Regions from separate parts of the Homo sapiens genome. Here region 1 is linked to region 2. The links come from fine-mapping of genetic effects on gene expression. A gene starts in region 2. The other region holds a variant in brackets. All regions are shown on one strand. Distances are from middle to middle. Region 1 holds the start of LOC105370185 (a long non-coding RNA gene). Region 2 holds the start of COG3 (component of oligomeric golgi complex 3).

What was found. PIP is the estimated chance that this variant, and not a neighbour inherited with it, causes the effect.
Region 1: its variant is fine-mapped to the expression of COG3 in nasal epithelium (TOPMed, PIP 0.95).

The regions. Positions count from the first base shown.
Region 1 is chr13:44,719,716-44,730,752 of GRCh38, reverse strand. It overlaps LOC105370185 (a long non-coding RNA gene), which reads left to right and starts at 6,576. Exons shown (of 3, transcript XR_941929.4): 1 at 6,576-6,650. The variant A/G (reference allele first, on the strand shown) is at 4,701.
Region 2 is chr13:45,458,428-45,468,921 of GRCh38, reverse strand. It overlaps COG3 (component of oligomeric golgi complex 3), which reads right to left and starts at 3,983. Exons shown (of 23, transcript NM_031431.4): 1 at 3,712-3,983. The coding sequence starts at 3,885.

The sequences.
Region 1 (11,037 bases), 740 kb after region 2:
TGAAAAAGCTCACTGTCATTGTTCTCTCATAATATTAATTTTTTTTGTTTTACTATTTTTTTTTTTTTGAGACGGAGTTTTGCTCTGTTGCCCAGGCTGGAGTGCAATGGTGCAATCTTGGCTCACTGCAACCTCTGCCTCCCAGGTTCAAGCGATTCTCCTGTCTCAGCCTTCCGAGTAGCTGGGATTACAGGCATGCACCACCATACCCGGCTAATTTTTGTATTTTTAGTAGAGACAGGGGTTTCACCGTGTTGGTCAGGCTGGTCTCGAACTCCTGACCTCGGATGATGCGCCCACCTCGGTCTCCCAAAGTGCTGGAATTACAGGCGTGAGCCACCGCTCCCAGCCTGTTTTACTTTAAAAACATATTTTACCATGATTTGTTTGTCCATGATGTGGTTCCTGCCAAACCCGTCGTAGGAACCAGGAAATGGAGTGGATGCTGCAAAGTACATTTTCCTCATTGTGCGCTGACACATCACTAAAACACCGCACTCTTTTAGACATCCTGGAGTGTATTACAAAAGGAAGGGTGATTTCTTGTTTTAGTTTCGTTGAGACCACCCCCTCAGAAGCACATCAGTAGCAGAGCTGAGACTTGCCTCTTGATCCGGGAGACCCTTGGCATCGCTGCGTGCTCGCTAAATTGTCGTCAGCTCTCACCTAATTGCCTCAATGGGAGACTCTTCTGGAAGGAGTCCAAGGGGTATCTCATCAGCGTTCTGCACCTCTGCCAAAGGACAATTGGGAGAAAGAGGCCAAAGCCCACAAGGGGAGATGAAGGCAGCAACTCTTTTTCCTGACTAATCTATCAGCACTTCGATGCTGGCGGGGGGCTCCCCTCCCAACCACCCCCTGCACACCTGCCTGCTGCTGCTCAAGGCAGAATCGATAAGCTGGAAGAACACAGTGAAAGTTCCCCAAGAACTTGAGGAACAGAAACACCTTGGGGACACCTCGAGTCCCCAAGGATTTGAGGAACAGAACAGAAATGTCGACCTGCCACTCTGCCTCTGCAACTGCAGTTTGGGGCCGTGGAGGTTCATGCCCCCCAGGCACAGAAAGGGCGATTTGGGTCTGTTTTCGGGTCAGCATGAAGTGCCTCCGCCCACTTCCTCACCCCCACTGAGGTGCATTTGGCAGTACCTGGAAGTGACAAGAGTCCATAGGTGAGGGCTGTCCAGCCTTGGCCCACAGTGCTCCTGGCTTGGATTTAGCCAGGTCCTCACCGCCAGAGGCTCAGCTCGGCTTGTTCTCACTGCCTGCCTCTTCTCAGACGGAGGTAGTAGCAATGTTTGGGGAGATGGTGCTCCACTGTAAATCTCCGATAGTCCGGACATGCGCCTCACCAGATTCCTCATACCTTGCCCACAGCTTGGTGTTTCATGTTAAAGGTCTACCTAAATCCACTGACAACGGAAACCCAATTCAAACGTATTTAAGCAAAAACGGGTAATTATAGGCTCTTGGGAAATCTAAGGATGAATTTTGGGAGCTGGATCCAGGAGCCCAAATCATGTTATTATAATAGTTGTGGTGTTATGATATATATTTGTTTTCCTCCACAGTTCCTGGTTCATTGCTTCCATAGTCCCCTTTACAGTCTTTTGTTATAATCTTGAATGTATTAGGCCTCAGGGGCAGGCCCCAGGAAATCTCAACTTTCTCCTGTCCTCATTTCACCTACCCCAAAGCAAGACTAATCTTTCCCCACCTTTCTGATGGTGGGGCTTAGGACCCTTCCCAGACAAAACATTGCAGGAAGAATGTTGACATCACTCAGCTTCCACAAAAACTCAAGACGGGCTGGGCACAGTGGTTCATGCCTATAATCCCAGCACTTTTGGAGAGTGAGGAGGGAGGATCTCTTGAATCCAGGAGATAAGCCTGCAGCAAGCCGTGATTGCACCTCTGCACTCTAGCCTGGGTGACCACAGAGCAAGACCCTGTCTCAAAACAACAAAACACCAACCAAACAAGAGGACTGGGTTCAGGGAGCTTCTGGATAGCTGAACATGTGAGGTTCCTGGAGGGTGGTGCACCCAGGAAGGGCATGGAATCTCCATGCCCCTTTCCGCATACCTCACCCTATCTGTATCCTTTGTAATATCCTTTATAAGAAACCAGTAACCAGCCGGGCATGGTGGCTCACACCTGTAATCCTAGCACTTTGGGAGGCCGAGGCAGGTGAATCACCTGAGGTTGGGAGTTTGAGACCAGCTTGACAAACATGGAGAAACTCTGTCTCTACTAAAAATACAAAATTAGCTGGGCATGGTGGCACATGCCTGTAATCCCAACTACTCGGGAGGCTGAGGCGGAGGCTGAGGTGAGCCGAGATCATGCCATTGCACTCCAGCCTGGGCAACAAGAGCGAAACTCCGTCTCAAAAAAAAAAAGAAACTAGTAACCAAAAGTGTTTCCCTGAGTTCTGTGAGCCAGTCCAGCAAATTATTAGAAGGCAAAGAGGGAGTCGTGGGAACCCCAATTTGAAACTAGTTGTCAGGAGTTCCTGAGGCCCAGACTTGCAACTGGTGCCTGGGGGTATAGGGAGCAGTCTTGGGGACTAGGCCCCCAATTTGTGGGATGTGATATTATCTCCAGGTCGATAGTGTTGGAATTCAGTTGGAGAACACCTAGCTGGTGTCTGCTACTTGGTGTGTGGAGACAAAAAAAAACAATATTTAGTCACAGAAATCCTTTTCTGTGTTGATGTGTAATCGCCCAAGGGGTTCACCTATCCCACTGCCCAGATCAGTATAGGGGAGTTGCAATAGAGAAAGAGAAATTCACGCAAAGCCGGCTGTGCGGGAGACCGGGGTTTTATTATTACTTAAATCAGTGTCCCTGAGCACTGGGGGAGCAGAATTTTTAAGGATAACTTGGTGGGTGGGGGAAGCCAGTGAGCCAGGAGTGCCGATTGGTCAGAGATAAAATCATAGGGAGTCGAAGCTGTCTTCTTGCGCTGAGTCAGTTCCTGAGTGGGAGCCAAAAGATCAGATGAGCCAGTTTATTGATCTGGGTGGGGCCAGCTGATCCATCAAGTGCAGGGTCTGCAAAATACCTCAAGCACTGATCTTAGGAGGAGTTTAGGGAGGGTCAGAATCTTGTGGCCTCCAGCTGCATGACTCCTAAGCCATAATTTCTAATCTTATGGCTAATGTTAGTCCTACAAAGGCAATCTAGTCCCCAGGCAAGAAGGAGGTCTGCTTTGGGAAAGGGCTGTTACCATCTTTGTTTAAACTGTAAACTAAGATTCTCCCAAAGTTAGTTCAGCCTATGCCCAGGAATGAACAAGGACAGCTTGGAGGTTAGCAGAAAGATGGAGTCAGTTAAGTTAGATCTCTTTCACTGTCTCAGTCATAATTTTGCAAAGGCGGTTTCAGATGGTTGTTGTGGTGTGAGAACATATCAAAAACACAGTATTTTCCTACATAATAGTTTACCTTAAATTTGTAACCATCCAATGGGTCCTCCTTGCCCACTGCCTAGACAACTGATTTATCAAGACAGAACTGCAACAGAGAAAGTTTTTAATTCATGCAGAGCTGGCTGTACAGGAGATGGAAGTTTTATTATTACTCAAATCAGTCTCCCCGAGCATTAGGGGATCAGAGTTTTTAAGGGTAATTTGGTGGGTAGGGGGCCAGTGAGTTGGGAGTGCTGATTGGGCAGGTCAGAGATGAAACCATAGGGAGTAAAAGCTGCCTTCTTGTGCTGAGTCAGTTCCCGGGTGGGGGCCACAAGACTAGATGAGCCAGTTTATCAATCTGGGTGGTGCCAGCTGGTGCAGCGAGTGCAGGGCTTTACAATGGTGACGTTATCCCCAGGAGCAATTTGGGGAGGGTCAGAATTTTGTAGCCTCCAGCTCCATGACTCCCAAACCGTAATTTCTAATCTTGTAGCTAATTTGTTAGTCCTACAAGGGTAGTCTTGTCCCCATACAGGAGGGGGATTCGTTTCAGGAAAGGGCTGTTATCATTTCTGTTTCAAAGTTAAACTATAAACTAAGTTCCTCCCAAAGTTAGATCGGCCTGTGCCCAGGAATGAAGGAGGACAGCTTGGAGGTCAGAAGCAAGATGGGGTTGGTTAGGTCAGATCTCTTTCACTGTAATAATTTTCTCAGTTATAATTTTGCAATGGCGGTTTCATTGTGTTTCCACATTTCCTGTGTTGCCTTCATTCTTTCCCTTCTAACTCAGTAGCAAATATGGCCACCAAGATTCCAGTGTTACATTATCTTTACAGCTGGCAAACAAAACATAGAGGCTGTTTTTTAATCATTCCAGAAAAATCCTGGGGAGAGCTCTGCCCATCCTTGAAACAATCTCTCTGATTGCCCAACCTAAACTGTGTGTCCAGTTTTTAAGTCAAAGCACGTGTTGAATCATGCCTGAACCATATGGTGTAGGAAAGGGAGAAGTGTTTGTTATTCCCTAAGGAGATTGTGAGCAGACAAAAACCATCTACTGACAATCTGGTAGAGATGTCCATGTTTATTCTTTTTTTTTTTCTTTGAAACGGAGTCTCACCCTGTCGCCCAGGCTGGAGTGCGATGGCACAATCTCAGCTCACTGTAACCTCCACCTCCCAGGTTCCAGGGATTCTCCTGCCTCAGCCTCTCGAGTAGCTGTAATTACAGGCATGTGCCACCACACCCAGCTAATTTTTTTGTATTTTAGTAGAAATGGGGTTTC[A/G]CCATGTTGGCCAGGCTGGTCTCGAACTCCTGACCTTGTGATCTACTCGCCTCGGCCTCCCAAAGTGCTGGGATTACAGGCGTGAGCCACCACACCTGGCTATTCTTACTATGACTTGTACAATATGTAAACTTAGCTTTTGGCTGGGCGCGGTGGCTCACCCTGTAATCCCAACACTGCGGGAGGTCGAGGTGGGAGGATCACTTGAGTTCAGAAGTTCAGGACCAGCTTGGCCAACACAGGAAAACCTCATCTCTACTAAAAATACAAAAATTAGCTTGCAATGGTGTGCACCTGTAATCCCAGCTGCTCGGGAGGCTGAGGCAGGAAAATCGCTTGAACCTGGGAGGCAGAAGTTGCAGTGAGCCGAGATCCTGCCACTGCACTCCAGCCTGGGCGACAGAGGGAGACTCTGTCTTTAAAAAAAAAAAAAAAAAAAGCCGGGCCCGGTGGCTCACGCCTGTAATCCCAGCACTTTGGGAGGCCGAGGCGGGCGGATCACGAGGTCAGGAGATTGAGACCATCCTGGCTAACACGGTGAAACCCCGACTCACTAAAAATACAAAAAATTAGCCGGGCACGGTGGCGGGTGCCTGTAGTCCCAGCTACTCGGGAGGTTGAGGCAGGAGAATGGCGTGAACCCGGGAGGCGGAGCTTACAGTCAGCCGAGATCGCGCCACTGCACGCCAGCCTGGGCGACAGAGCAAGACTCCGTCTCAAAAAAAAAAAAAAAAAAAAAAGAGAGAGAGGGGTACAAGGAGGAAAACAAAGAGGAACCTAAAGTGTCCAGAGGTGAATGGAATAGCCACATTTCATTGGTGGTGAAAAGCAGGGTGATGAACAAGTGAAAATGGTTTTGAAGGTATTGAAATGCTATTCAAATCTGAAAACAAGCCTGCTCATGCCCATCCACCTGAGTTTTCCTTAGCTTGGCCTGGTCATCAACCCCACATTCTGTCTACCACAGGGCAACATGAGAGAAAAGACTCATTTGATTCTAGTGTTCTGGTTCAAGGGCCTTTCACCTATCTCACGGTCTCAAGTTGTGACTGTCTCAACCTGTGTGAGGTCCAGACTCACCAAGCCAAAGTGCCTTCATTTTGCAAATCCATTTTTCCAGAAAATATTTCTTCCTTTTACAGATGCAAGTCCTCAATAGTGCAAGTGAATTTCTAATTACTTCAAGCTGATAGAGCCAAGTCACAAATTGCTTGTGGGATATATTGAAAAATGATGAAACTTGAAATGATTACCCGAAAGCATAAAGTCTGTAAAAAATTGAGGAATACAGACTTGGGATAAAGATCCTACAAATGTAGTTCATTAACTTGATATTAAATATAAACTAATGGTAGGGAAGTGAAAACCCTATTAAAATGTCTATGAAAAAATTAGAGATACAACTTCAGAAGGTGGGAGAGTGTTCATGGATTTGGGTTATTGGGCAGAAGCCAAAATCAACCTTCCCAAGAGGTTAGTCTTTTCTTCTCTTTTAAAGACCAGATAAGAGGTAGAGCCTCCACTAGAAAAATGCAACTATGAGAAAACAGGGTCCCTTCTTATTTTATCTTGGACACCCTAAAAGCCAGAGGAGGTGGTAGAAAGCACTGTGACAGTAGCTCCAAATTTCCTGCCCTCAATCACTCAAGGTATACTCAGAAAGTGAACAATTATGAAGTCCAGTGTCAGATGACATTCTAGAATCTGATGAAACACCAAAAAGAAGATTTAGTTCCTACCTTCAAGCTTCTTATGGTGAACGGGTTAAGCCTTTCAGGTCATTGGAGTTTGACTATCTTGTAAAAAGAAAAAGAGCATAATTTTGAAATAGGATGTGTCTATGTGCGAAGCTTCCAGAAGGGATTTTGGAGAGTCGGGGAACTGCCTGAATGTTACTGAAGGCCTGAAGTCAAGGAGAGGGCTCCAGTATGTGAAGTAGAAATAAAAAAGGTGAGCACTCAAGAGAATGCTTGCCTTCTTACGACTTTTATTAGGGCTCTTTTTTATATATAATTTTCAACAACTATAGTCAGTATCAGATAATCACGAGTTATGGGAATCTAAACATGAAAACACTGATCATCACATAAAGTATATGTGAATGAATCAGGTAGACCCAAACTTGGGAAACCAAGGGTTTGACTCTCTCTTGCTTTAGAGATCCAGCAGGTGCCAGGAAACAAAATAGGAAAAGAAGCCTGCTGCTAATGTGACCAAAGTGAAGTTCCAGCATGATTAATTTTTTTTTTTTTTTTGAGATGGAGTCTTGCTCTTGTTGCCCAGGCTGGAGTGCAATGGTGCAATCTCAGCTCACCTCAACCTCCACCCTTGGGTTCAAGCCATTCTCCTGCCTCAGCCTCCCAATTAGCTGGGAATACAGGCATGTACCACCACACCTGGCTAGTTTTGTATTTTTAGTAGAGATGGGTTTCTCCATGTTGGCCAGGCTGGTCTTGAACTCCCGACCTCAGGTGATCTGCCCACCTTGGACTTCCAAAGTGCTGGGATTACAGGTGTGAGCCACCATGCTCGGCCTCTAGCATGATTAATTTTTATTTTACCATCAAACTTGGTAAGGAACTGTAGAATCACTAGGGAAAGTTATAGAAAATAAACAAACATTTTTCCAGCCACAAACATTCATTATAGGGGATCGGAAGACTTCTGCTTCTGGCCATGATAGAGTAATGGGGGATGGATTTACCCTCCTGTCTTAAAATACTAAAAAACTAGACAAAATATATGAAACAGTAGTTTTCAGATGTTAGACAACAGGCAGCACAGAAATATGATCCAAGAGGAAGGGAAAATAAAGAGGTGAACCCTATGATTGCCCCAGCTTGCTACCTGGAGGCAATTTCCAGATTGCAGTATAGGGAGGAAGAAATAGCACAGCAGTCTCATTGAGATGAGGAGCAAGAGATCCAGGCCAAGGGAGGTCAAAGTCACTAGAACGTATGGGTCTATGCACTAGAAAGGAGGGAGATGCAGGGGAAGACAGGGAGAAAAAGAGAGCACTCCAGAGATCTATAAAGGAGCCACTTTGAAGCTTTGGCTGATGGCTGATTCATGTATACACAAGAGGAAACTATCTAAGGGGAAACCATCACCCAAAAGCAGCAAGCTGAACAATTCCTGGGGCTTACACAGGGCTAGGAATAGTTTGTGTTCCCACCAGTCAGAGTAGAAAGACCTCCTAGAGTCCTCAGAGGGGGACTCTTCTTATGTAGTCCCACCTTACTAGTGGGACTAAATAAGCCCTAGACTAAAAGCCACTCTGAACTCACCATTAAAATGCTTGAAAAGGAAAGGATCCAATAGATTCCAAGTAACTTAATTTTGTACCAGCATAAAGCTCAACACTATTTAAAAGAAAATAACAAAATCCAGCAACCAACAATGTAGAATCACAATGCCAGGTATCCTGTCAAAAATTACCAGGCATACAAAAAAACAGGAAAACATTGCTTATAACCAAAAGAAAAAGTAATCAATAGAAACAGTCCCAGAAATTATGGAAATAATGAATTAGCAGACAAGAACATGAAAATATCTATTTTAAATACACTCCTATCTATAAGAAAGTAAATAAAAACATGAACATGGTGAAAAGATAAATTAATGATACTTTTTTTTTTTGAGACGGAGTTTCGCTCTTGTTGCCCAGGCTGGAGTGCAATGGCATGATCTTGGCTCACCGCAACCTCCGCCTCCCAGGTTCAAGCGATTCTTCTGCCTCAGCCTCCCTAGTAGCTGGGATTACAGGCATGTGCCACCCCAGGCCCAGCTAATTTTGTATTTTTAGTAGAGACAGGGTTTCTCCCTGTTTGTCAGGCTGGTCTTGAACTCCCGACCTCAGGTGATCCGCCTGCCTTGGCCTCCCAAAGTGCTGGGATTACAGGTGTGAGCCACCATGCCCAGCCAAATTGATGATACTTTTAAAAGACTCAGATAAAACACATAAAGATGAAAAATGCAGTATCTTAATTGAAAAATACTGCATGGGATTAATAGTTAATCAGATATTGCAGAAGAAAAGGTAAGTGAAGTTGAAGAAATAATGAAGCACAGAAAAAAGACTAAAAAAAATGAATAGAGCATTAGTGACTTGTGGACTTTACATATATAACCTAGATGAACACATGTGTATAATTAAAGTGCCAAGAAAATGATGTGAGGGGGGAGATAAAATATTTGAAAAAATAATAAATAAAAGTGTTCCAATTTTGAAGAAAACTATAAATTGAAGATTCAAGGGGCTCAACAAATGCCAAGCAGAATAAACATTAAGAAAATCATGCCAAGGCACACCATAGCCCAATTGTTGAAAACCAGTGTCAAAAAAATTTTTTAAAACAGCCAGTGAAAAGGGGACATCTTATTTACATAAGAACAACAGCCAAAACCAATGGCAGCAGATTTCTTGACAGCAACTACATAACCCAGAAGACAATGAGACAATATCTTTAAAGTAATGAAACAGAAGCTGTAAATCTAGGATTTTATACCCAGCAAAAAATGTTTCAAAAATAAAAGTGAACTGCTAGGCGCAGTGGCTCATGCCTGTAATCCCAGCACTTTGGGAGGTTGAGGTGAGTGAATCATAAGGTCAGAAGTTCAAGACAAACCTGGCCAAGATGGTGAAACCCTGTCTCTACTAAAAATACAAAAATTAGCTGGACGCAGTGGTGGGTGCCTGTAATCCCAGTTACTTGGGATGCTGAGGCAGGAGAATCCCTTGAACCTGGGAGGCAGAGATTGCAGTGAACCGAGATCATGCCACCGCACTCTAGCCTGGGCCACAGAGCAAGAGTCCATCTGAAAATAATAATAATAATAATAATAATAATAATAATAAAAGTTAAATTAAAACTTTTCAAACAAAAGCTGAAAGAACTCATCACTAGCCATCTGCACAACAAGAAAGAAAACAGAAGTTTTCAGGCAGGATACAGCACAAGAAAAGGATCTATACAAATGACTGAAGAGTGCCAGAAATGATAAATATATAAATGACTTCTTTAAGACATCATCAACTAATTAAAGTGAAAATAATCACAGTATATTGCAGGATTCATAACATATATTGAAGCAAAATGTATCACAATAGCATAAAGACAAGAAGGAAGAAATAGAAGTATACTTCTATTTAAATACTGCACTGTACTTAAAGTAGAAAAATATTTGAAGTTAAACTGTTATAAATTAAAGTGCAATTATGTACAAATACAAATAGACATTACAAAATATGTTACACAGATCAAATCCTGTTAAAACAAACTCCAAAGTCTTATTTCAATAATTTTATCTTTCTCAAATTTGTGTCTTTTATTCTGGCTTTAATTAGTTATAATGGCACTGTAATTTCAAAATTTAACCTGTCCCTATAGTTCAACATCTGCTCTTCTTTTATTAAATGTTGCCAAATAACAGCAGAGGATGTATTTTCAGCATCATGCTTGTCTCACCAAGCTAAATTTGGTACTGTGGAATTTGTTGGTGAGGACAAATGATATGAGAATTCCTATGCTTGAAGCAATGCTGGCTTTGGGCCATTTCTATTTAAATGATGGGTTTGGAACAAATTGTGTTTACAGACTGATTCTGCCACTTACAAACTGTACTATTTTCTATTTGGGGAAATATCTAAGGTCTGTGACGTGGAGGTCCTATATGTTGATATAGCAAAGAAAAGAATGGAGCACCTCCTTATTCATTTTGGAATGAGTAAGATTTTTGGAAACCACATTGGAAAATTTGCTTCCTTAATAAAGTGCCATTCTTGTCAGATGAGTAGAAAAGAATACTGACCTCATTTATTTTTCCATCAATGCATCTCTCTATTCAGGGCTAAAAGTGGGGCATATTTGGAATTGTTAGCTTCAAACAAGCTCTGTAACTTAGGGGGTAAATAATTTCATGGTGGTATAACATGCCAAGTGGTAGTGAATAGCTTAGAGAAGTAAGGCATATAGTTAATGAGTACCTCTACATAGAGGCCCAGGCCTGGCTTGCGGTAAAAACTGGCTGCTTTGCAGTAAGAAAAGCCAGCTTTGCGCAAAGCTGGCTGACTTTGTGGTAAAAACAAGTAGGGAATTCAGGAGATCCAAGGAATGTCCCAGTTCTGCCATTTGCCAGACCTCAAGCAAGACCATTTAACCTCCCTGGACCTTAATGTCTGCAGTGGGCCAAGGCAGTGTTTCCCTAAGTAGAGTGCATGCCACTGGTGGTACATCAATATTTTTTTCTTTTTAATATATATTAATGTATTTTAGAAAATATAACTATATAAGAAAATCTAACTATATTCCACCCATAATTTTATTAATGTTATTGA
Region 2 (10,494 bases):
AAAAAGGGGTGTGGTGGTATCACACACTTTCCTGTTCTGACCTCTCATTCACTTCTCAGGAGGAGGTGACTGAATGCCTGCTGCTTACCAGCACTGTCCTGGCTTCCAGATGGAGCAGACAGACACCACTAGAGAGAGAACACAGTTCTAGATTGCTAATGGGCCAGTGCTGCAGAGCTACTGTATAGTTTATGCAAATGGAGACACTAACATTAAATAGTAAGTACAATAAATTCTCAAGCTTTGCCTGACCAGCTGAGCAGGTCCCTGAAATAACAAGTAACATACCTTTCTCTCCCAAGCTTTACTTCTTGCAGAGTTCTGGGTTGGAGAAAACCACTTTTATAATCAATCTGATCAATTAATTCCCTAAATGAAACCTGATGTTTTGTTCTCTGCTTGGAGCAAATTACTGAAGAGGTATAGGTGGAGTCTCAGAACCTTCCTCAAGGCACTTAACCTCTCCTTTTCTTACCTTTGGTCTGAATGACACCTATACCAGCTCAGCATCACAGGATTCTAATCTATTCTTTTAAGATGTTAATAATTTGAAAGAAAGCACAAGAATAATAGCAAGTAACTTGCCACGTGCACCTTGCATACGTGATTTCACATAATTCTCACAATTCCCTATGAGATAAGTACTCATCATGAGTTAAGTCCCCATTTTATAAAGAAGAAAATTAAGGCTTAGAAAAGATAAACATCACATCTAAGGTCACACAGCCTACAAGAAAACAACAGCTGTAACAGTAAATTATAGGTAAATGTCGGGGTAAATTATTTTAGCACTTTATCAAGAATTACTAAATTCAACAGAAAGAAATAGGCCCCTCACTACTAAGTTTGCCCTGGCTACAAAAGTCTACCTAATATTCTATTGTAAATTATTTTCTCTAATGCCAAAAAAGGCATAATTCCTTTTTAAGATAAGACTAGTTCTCTTTCATAAAAGAGAAAGCTATTTTCTAAAGAAGTTAACATCTTTATGATATGTACTTAAGAGTTAGTTGGCCTCTTGCTATTCTACTAGCCTGCTCAGTTCCAGTTGTTCAGGAAGTAATTTATCTCGTGAAAATTGTGAAACACTACAGAAAATCCTTGAGTTATACTGATTGGACAAAATGAAAATTGTGGCACTCTCTTTTGCTGCCAATGTTAAAAGAGTAGTATAGGGCTAAAAAAATTAATTCCAAAGTCTTCCCAACAGACATATAAACACTTCAGAAAAGGAAAATGAGGGCTGTAAAGCTGAAGAGCAATGAGAACTGCCTTCTCAAAGATTCCAGGATGTGTGCATAACCAGCTCGGCTACTGCATTCTTTTTGAGACAGAATCTTGCCTGTCACCCACCCAGGCTGGAGCGCAGTGGTGCAATCTCGGCTCAGGGCAATCTCTGCCTTCTGGGTTCAAGTGATTCTCATGCCTCAGCCTCCCAAGTACCTGGGATTACAGGCATGCACCACCACACCCAGCTAATTTTTATATTTTTAGTAGAGATGGTGTTTCGCCATGTTGGCCAGGCTGGTCTTGAACTCCTGACCTCAAGTGATTCTCCCGCCTTAGCCTCCCAAAGTGCTGAAATTACAGGCGTGGGCCACCGCACCTGGCCTCAGCTATTGCATTCTCACAGGAATCCAATACCAAGCTGCACGTACCAGAAGACCCTCACTGAATTCTTGAACTCATTAAGCTCATCCTCTACCCATGACCTTATGCTGTTCTTTCTTCCAGCTGCAATGTTATTTCTTTAGTCTTTATGAGGCTAGCTTCAGGTAGTCCATCATCAGTTCTCACCTCAGGCTGTCACTTCCTTGGAAAGGTCTTCCCTCTTTCTCTAAAAGGGCACACCTCATCCTTTTCTGTCACACCATCCTATCTGATTTTCCTTATATTATGGACCACCATCTGAACATACCTTCTTTGTTCTTTTTTTCCATGTTCATGATCCCCACAATTATGTCAGCTCTATGAGGCTAAGGATCTCATCTTTCCTATTTATCTTTCTATCTTCAATACCTAACTCAGAGTAGGGACATAACATATGTTAAAGACTGCATGTGGCTAATGATAAATATGGAAGAATGGGGTGAAAATGAAAGATTCCATTTAGTTCATTCCAAACGTTCTCCTTCATGCTCAATGAGAATAAGAAATAATAGTTTATGACCCATGACAATGAAAACAAATTTTTTTGTAGAATATGTATCTCCCCCATCACACCCTCAGTGCTATTAAGTCCAAGCATCCTGCTGCAGTAGGAGCCAAATCAATTATAAACAGACTGGAAAATTTATAGAGCAAACAACTTTTATTATCCAGGGTATAAAAGAGTTTGATAGCTGAGCCAAAGAAATTTCCACCTGCGCCTTCATTGATTTCAGATCCACTTCCGGTACCATATCCTAGAGGTGGAAAAAGAAACCCAAGAAAGAACGCCTATTTGATGGCTGAGCATACAACAGTGAATGTGAAGAGAACGTTTAAATCAAATCTCTAAAGTTGGAGGACAGAAAAAGTTGAAGACTCTAAACTCAATCTGCATTTGGACACAATTCCAAATCGTATAAAAAGAATGCTTCAGGCCAGGCACGGTGGCTCACGACTGTAATCCCAGCATTTTCGGAGGCCGAGGCGGGCAGATCACTTGAGGTCAGGAGTTCGAGAACAGCCTGGACAACAGGGCGAAACCCCATCTCTACTAAAAATACAAAAAATTAGCCGGGTGTAGTGGCAGGCACCTGTGATCCCAGCTACTCGGGAGGCTGAGACAGGAGAATCGCTTGAACCCGGGAGGTGGAGGTTGCAGTGAGCCGAGGTCACGCCACTGCACTCCAGCCTGGGCGACAGAGCGAGAGAAAAGAATGCTTCCAACATCAAAAGTAACCATCACCACTGCTTATATAAAATAATCCTCCTAAACCTGGCCCTCAAAACTGGAAAACGTTTGTCAAACATCTGACAATTCATGTTACTTCCTGCTATTACAACTAATTGAATTGAATCACACAAGAAGCAGTAGTGCATAATATCCTAATGGTAAGTGGATTAAACACATTGACTCTAACACCGAAAACCAGCACTGCTTAATAATGTACTGAGCCAACTTTCAAATAAAATTCATTTTTATTGCTTTGCAATAGGTGAAATAAATCTGATCTCCCATAACTTGCACTTGATTGAGAGCTCATAGTTCAATGTGCGATAAATGAAACTCACTCAGGACCAAGTTTTGGTCTCCCCAAGACCCCCATGGACAAAGCAACCTAGGTGAATCATTAAGGCGGTAAACGAGCACGCGCTGGAGACTGTCCTGCAGCACAGCACCTCGGGTTGACTGCCTCTCCTTCTGGGAGAGAGTGGGCAGCAGGATTACGCCTCGGCTGACAGGACGCCTCGTCTGGGGCAAAACGTTCGGTGCAAGGCTCCGGGCCAACCGTCCCATGCTGCTGGGGGAGGACTGGGTTCCGGCGAGCACCAGCTGCAGGACACCCCCACAGCCGTCCCCAGGCAGAATTAGAGTCGGGGTCGCAGGCAGAGCGAAGCCTGACAGCCTGGGAGATGAGGCCCCTCCCACCGGATCCGCCACCATGGCCAGGGAGGAGTGGAGAGATATCCTGGGCAGAGGCTAGTGAGGCCGGGGTCCTGCCGGGGCGCCCGAGGAGAATCCCAGCCCCATCGCCCCGGCCCGGTTCCTGCCCATCACCTCACCTCAGCTGGCACCGGCAAGTTCTCTGCCGCCGCCTTCAGCTCCAATACCGAGTCCGTCTGCCTGTCGGTCAGCGGCGCCGTCGTGTCCGGTCTCCGATCCCAGAGAGCCAGCTTTTCCCTAGCGTCCCGCTCCGCCGCCGCCTCAGGCAGCAGCAACAGCGCCGCCTCCGCCATCGCCGCCGCCCTCGCGGCCTTCAGCAGCAGCGAGATGGAGGGGACCCCGACAGAGAGACCTGGGCCACTTCCGGGAGAACCGGAGCTTCCAACACTGCACCGGCGGCGGGGCGGGACGGAATGCCCTGACCCCGGAAACGGTTCCGCAGTGTGGGGGGCGGGACCGAGGCCAGTACCGACGTGGCTTTAAATGGGTACGACTATTTCCGGTTGAAACGTAGAAGGTGGAGAAGACAGGACCCAATGGAAATAGAAATGCCCCTACCGGAAGTCTTTTCCTCAACATCAATAACTTTATTGTTACGTGTTGTACAGATTATTGACAACTGCGCTAAATCACCCTGCCGGCAGGAGACTTGGATCTACACCTCTCTGCTTACAGCTGGGTAGTCTGGGTAGAATGTGTGGAGTGTATGATTTCCATGTTGGCATGTTGACAATTTATGCCTCTTGGATCAAAACCAAAAGCATAAACTTTTCCAACATCCAGTAATTCCCCTACTAGAAAACTAATTTACGGAAACACATAAAAAATTCAAAGATGTGTGTATCTCAGACATCATTAATGGTATCAAATAACTGGAGACAACCTAAATGTCCAACATTGAAGAACTGGATCAAGAATTTGTGGCACAGACCAGGCGCGGGGGCTCAGGCCTGTAATCTCAGCACTTTGGGAGACCGAGGTGGGCGTATCACCTGAGGTCAGGAGTTTGAGACCAGACTGGCCAACATGGTTGAACCCCGTCTCTACTAAAAGCACAAAAATTAGCCAGGCGTGGTGGCACATGCCAGTAATCAGCCTGAGAGGCTGAGGCAGGAGAATCTCCTGAACCTGGAAGGTGGACGTTGCAGTGAGCAGAGATCTTGCCACTGCATTCCGGCCTGGGCATCAAGTGAGACTGTCTCAAAATGTATAATAATAATAATTTGTGGTACAGACATGTAATTCTACTCTACCATTTAAATCATATTGTAGATTTGAGCAACAAAATAAATAATGATAGTATTGGATCATAATTTACAGAATAAAATAAATACCCATGAGTCCATACTGCTATAAATAAACGATTGAATAAATAAATGGTGGAGAACAGACAATCTTCTACAAGTTATGGAGGCCTCTTCCTGCTCCTCCCTGGAGTCAAGGCAGGTGGAAACAGCTTCGTAGCAATTTTGACCATTGTCTGGGTAAAGTCTGAAGGCTTTATTCAGGCTTTATAGCACAAATCAGTGCCTGGCTATGTTCCCAAATGAAGGCTCTGATCTTTTAAGAGCAGAATTTGAGACCGGGCGCAGTGGCTCACACCTGTAATCCCAGCACTCTGGGAAGCCGAGGTGGGCGGATTACCTGAGGTCGGGAGTTCGAGACCAGCCTGATCAACATGGAGAAATCCCGTCTCTACTAAAAATACAAAAAAACTTAGCTGCGCGTGGAGGTGCATGCCTGTAATCCCAGCTACTCGGGAGGCTGAGGCAGGAGAATCGCTTGAACCCAGGAGGCGGAGGTTGCTGTGAGCCAACGTTGCACCATTGCACTCCAGCCTGGGCAACAAGAGCTAAACTCTGTCTCAAAAAAAAAAAGAATAGAATTTGAAGTTGGAAGAGAATTTTAAAATCATATAATCAAGCCCTTTCTGTCTACAGAGGAGCAAACTACAACCCGTAGAGGTGAAGCAAGCAGCCTAACATCCTGCAATCAGGTGGTTAACATCAGCGTCACCACTGGAACTTAGATATCCTGACTGTGTCTGACACCCTTTATATACCACAGCTTCTCCAAGTTGCCTGCTGTACAAAGCCCTTAAAAAATCTGCAGATCCCCAATGTTGATGTAAATAATTGTATTATATTGCTTAAGTATGAACAAAAATAAGACTTGACATAAGCTTTGGATGTTTATACCAAAATAGACATGCAAGTTACATGCCAACAGAAATATAACTAACATATAACGGTATATAACCAATAACATTCACATTAACAACTCAAGTGAGATGTGGGATATTATTTTGCTGGAAAACGAAATTGCTTCTGGCAACACGAAGACAGTCCTGACTACTGCTATACAGCTGCTTGGGAGTTCATCACACTTCTGTTATACCAGCAGCATGCTGTGTTCCCCACCATTTGAACTACTGGGAACACTTGACTCAGGGTAAATCCCTAATACCATTTTTCCTTTATCTGGCTTGTATATATCATTTGCATATTAAAACAACCCTGCTGTTTTTAGTAGCTTTATTAAAAATATTCTATATGCACAAACAAGGAGGGTGGAAGCTGAAATCATGTGGTAATCCTAAACTATAAAACTGTCATGTTGGTGATCCAGAATATGCATGAATATAGTTTTAAGAGTTGAAATGAGGCTGGGTGTGGTTGCTCACGCCTGTAATCCCAGCACTTTGGAAGGCTGAGGCGGGCGGATCATGGGGTCAGGAGATCGAGACCATCCTGGCTAACATGGTAAAACCCAGTCTCTACTAAAAATACCAAAAATTAGCCGGGCGTGGTGGCAGGCACCTGTAGTCCCAGCTACTCGGGAGGCTGAGGAAGGAGAATGGCATGAACCCGGGAGGCGGATCTTGCAGTGAGCTGAGATTGTGCCACTATACTCCAGGCTGGGCAACAGAGCGAGACTCTGTCTCAAAAAAAAAAAAAAGAGTTGAAATGAAAACAAATATTTTAAAAATGTAATCACAAGCTCTAGTTTGAGAAAGACTGCACCACATCCTACTGTCTACTGCCCTAATAAAGACATAGACCATGGTTAAACTTTCCTATTACCTACTACAAGTGTCTGCAATTCCACATTTCTTTGCTTCCTAGGGTTTTTCACCCAGTAATATCTTAGAATAGGCCCCTGGAAATGGAAAAATGCCTAAGGGACAAGGGGCAGAGGTGCTCTAGATTGAGGAAGGGGAGAGATAGGGAAGGAGACGGCGGTAAGGATCCAAAGACCTCCTTATAGTGAGGGCTTCATAGCCTCGCCATGGTCAGCCCTCCTCAATGACTCAAACCTGGACACTGCAAAGGACCCCCGCTAATAATGTGGCATTGCAAGAATAGCTCATGTGTTGATTTCCAAAGCACCTCTCATCTGCTGCTCACTTTCACTCAGGTAGGTAGTTGGTGGATATTATTTTTTGCCCTATTTAATGAATGATAAAAACAAACTTCAGGGAGGTTTGTGAGCTGCTCAGGATAACAGTTAGTAAAGGGCAGACCTGTCATTGGAACCAGGACACTGGGCAGGACCTTCTCTTTTCCCTCTGTGCTAACACAAATGAAAGTGAGCAACATGAACCCATTCGTACATTTGAACCCATTCGTACTTTTTTGTCACAGGACATTTTAGCAAGCATGAGTTCCAAGGATGAGCATTACAGGCTGGCAGAACTGCTTCCCAGCATTCTATGGTACTTCAAGGTTGTACTAGTGCCAAAACACTAAACATGGCGTAAAAGAGGAAGAACGTTAGAACACACAGACTTCTCAGATCATTTTCCATTTTACTTCACTGCTTATAAAACAGCAAAGTTACAAAATGGAATAGTTCAAATCATTCTTATACACAGCTGCATGTGTACAATTGCCTCGTGAATTTTCAGAGCACGTTCTTGTGGAATTGATGGATTTCTTTATGTATACTCTCCAGCCTATTATCAGAAGAACCACTTCCCTTGCTATAGGTTTCTATAGCTTCATCAAGGGTCTGAAGATCTGTTTTCCTTTTCAAATTATTTCCTTTCTTACTCACTTTATCAATTTCTCATTTACACATCAGTGACTATAAATCACTGTAAACCTTGACAATTTATTTAAATAGTAGCTAAGGCTTTATTTCATAATAACAGAAGAATTAGACAAATAGTACCACAGCTTAGAATTCAGAATCAATATTTAGAATCAAGGCATGTTTTGAAGAAAGACATAATTACCTTCCAAAATTTCAACCTCAAAAAGCTATGAACTGCCTCTTTGCTAATAATAAAATTAAAACACATGCAATAAAGTCATGTGTAAATGTTGGTAAAAACATTTTTGGAAATATCTATCACTAGCCTTGAAATGCTCACTTTTTTTTTACTTCCTTTTCTAGGGCTTTTTCATAAATTGATAATCTCTTAATTTTTTTTAAAAAAGCTTTATCTACAAAGATGTTCACAGCAGGATATTAAAAAACATTTAGAAACAATTTAAGTATAGAATTATGGTAAATTTGCTTGATGGCTTACTAGACAGTCATTTTAATTACATTTAAATTTTACTTGTATTTTGTTTTTCAAATGTTTTAATGAGTATGTGTTATTTATAATGATACGCATATATCATAATTATGCCTATATGTTCGTTGTGTGGGTGCATGTGTGTGTGTGCTTATTGTACAGCATTAGAGATCTAGTAACATTATAGATTACCCATTCATTCATTCACTCATCCTCTTATCAAACATTAATTGTGTGTTGGGTTCTGTATTAGTCCATTTTCATATTGCTGATAAAGACATACCTGAGAGCCAGGCACAGTGCTTATGCCTGTAATCCCAGCACTTTGGGAGGCCAAGGCAGGTGGATCATTTGAGGTCAGGAGTTCAAGACCAGCCTGGCCAAGATGGTGAAACCCCATCTCCACTAAAAATGTAAAAATAAGCCAGGTGGTAGTGGCACACACCTGTAATCCCAGCTACTCGGGAGGCTGAGGCGGGAGAATCACTTGAGCCTGGGAGGTGGAGGTTGTGGTGAGCCAAGATGGCGCCACTGCACTCCAGTCTGGGTGACAGAGTGAGACCTTGAATCAAAAAAAAAAAAAAAAAAAAAAAAAAAGACATACCCGAGACTGGGCAATTTACAAAAGAAAGAGGTTTATTAGACTTATGGTTCCACCTGGCTGGGGAGGCCTCATAATCATGGCATAAGGCAAGGAGGAGCAAGTCACATCTTACATGGATGGCAGCAGGCAAAGAGAGAGCTTGTGCAGAGAAACTCCCGTTTTTTAAAACCATCAAATCTCATGAGACCCAATCACTATCATAAGAACAGCATGAGAAAGACCCACCCCCATGATTCAATTACCCCCCACCAGGTTCCTCCATAACATGTGGGAATTGTGGAAGTTGCAATTCAAGATGAGATTTGGATGGGGACACAGCCAAACCATATTACATTGTGTGCTGATCTGAGTATTCAATACTAAATCAGAACATTTCCTGTATTCAAGGAGCTTACAGTCTGGTAAAGTAGACAGACAAACACTGGCGAGTGCAATACAATATAAAATGTAGTATCTGTGAATAAGCATAAGATGATTACAGGAAGCAAGGAAGAAAAGCATCTAATCCATACTTGGATGATGAGGGTAGGTTTTCTGGAGAGACCTTTAACAGTGCTTGGCATACAGTAGATACTCAATAAATATATTTTGAATGAATTGGGATCTGAATAGCAATAAGACAGAGAAGGAGAAACTTTTTCAAGTGAGAGGGAACAGTATGTGCTAAGGCCTAGAAGCAAGACCACAGAACACCTGTAGGAAGTAAAAAATTTGACAATATGATTAGAATTTGAAGTTGGAGGTAGAAAGATGACAAGAAATGATGTCAAAGCGGTGCATAGGGACAAGACTGTGAAAGCCTGGGTGCCATGATAAGAAGTTTGGCCTCTGTGCTGAGGAGATCGGGCAGTAAGGACATTGCCCATTGGCCATTTAGAAAAGTCCTGGAGAGTGTGGCACATGCATTGACCAGAAGCCAATCCAGAAGTGGGAACAGAGAGTATAGAGGCTGTTTCAGTCATCTGGACAGCCTGAATTAGGAGTGTTGGTGGACATGGAGAGAGGAGAGTGAAAGGAGGAGATATCAAAAAGATAAAGCCCACCGGGATTGAGGTGTAACTGAATGGACACGAAGGAGTCAGGATGTCTGGTTTGGACACATGGGTGTGTCCTTCACTGAGAGGGGAGCACAGAAGAAGATAGCTTGGCAGAGGGTGACGAGTCCAATGTTTGACATGAAGCATGCTGAGAGAATGTTTTCCACATACACACAGCTCCTTGTCTATTCTAATGAGCCAGACTTGAGTATCCACCACCTGAATGGAGGATTGTCACGGCAGACCCAACAAACAACCGTGTCACATGGACAGCTTTTGAGCTTTAAAAGCAGCCACTCAGTTGTAAAACAGGTATTGGAAAAATACACCTTCTATTTTTGTCCTACCTTAAGAAACTACGTGTTTTAGAGAAAAGAGGGAGTCTACAGAGGGGAGCAGGATGGTATCTTGCAGCAAGTGTTTTTGAGAAGGGGTTCTACCATCTGGGTGGTGGGGATGAGGGTGGTTCATGAATGTTCTGAGATCAGACAAAATATATCTCTTGCTTCCTAAGTATGGTGGTAGAGAATGAAAAAAGCCTAGAGTACTCCCAAGTCCTACTAGAGTAGCGCATGAACAATGGAGTAGGCACACGTGAGAAATTCTGTAGGCAGCTTCACAAAGACCCTTCACACAGACTCAAACATAGTGCAGGGAACGACAGATGCTACTGTATCTCCAAGGGTGGTAGAAGAGACCATGGAGCTAGAGTTGGGCCTGGAGAAGCCTGGAGTCC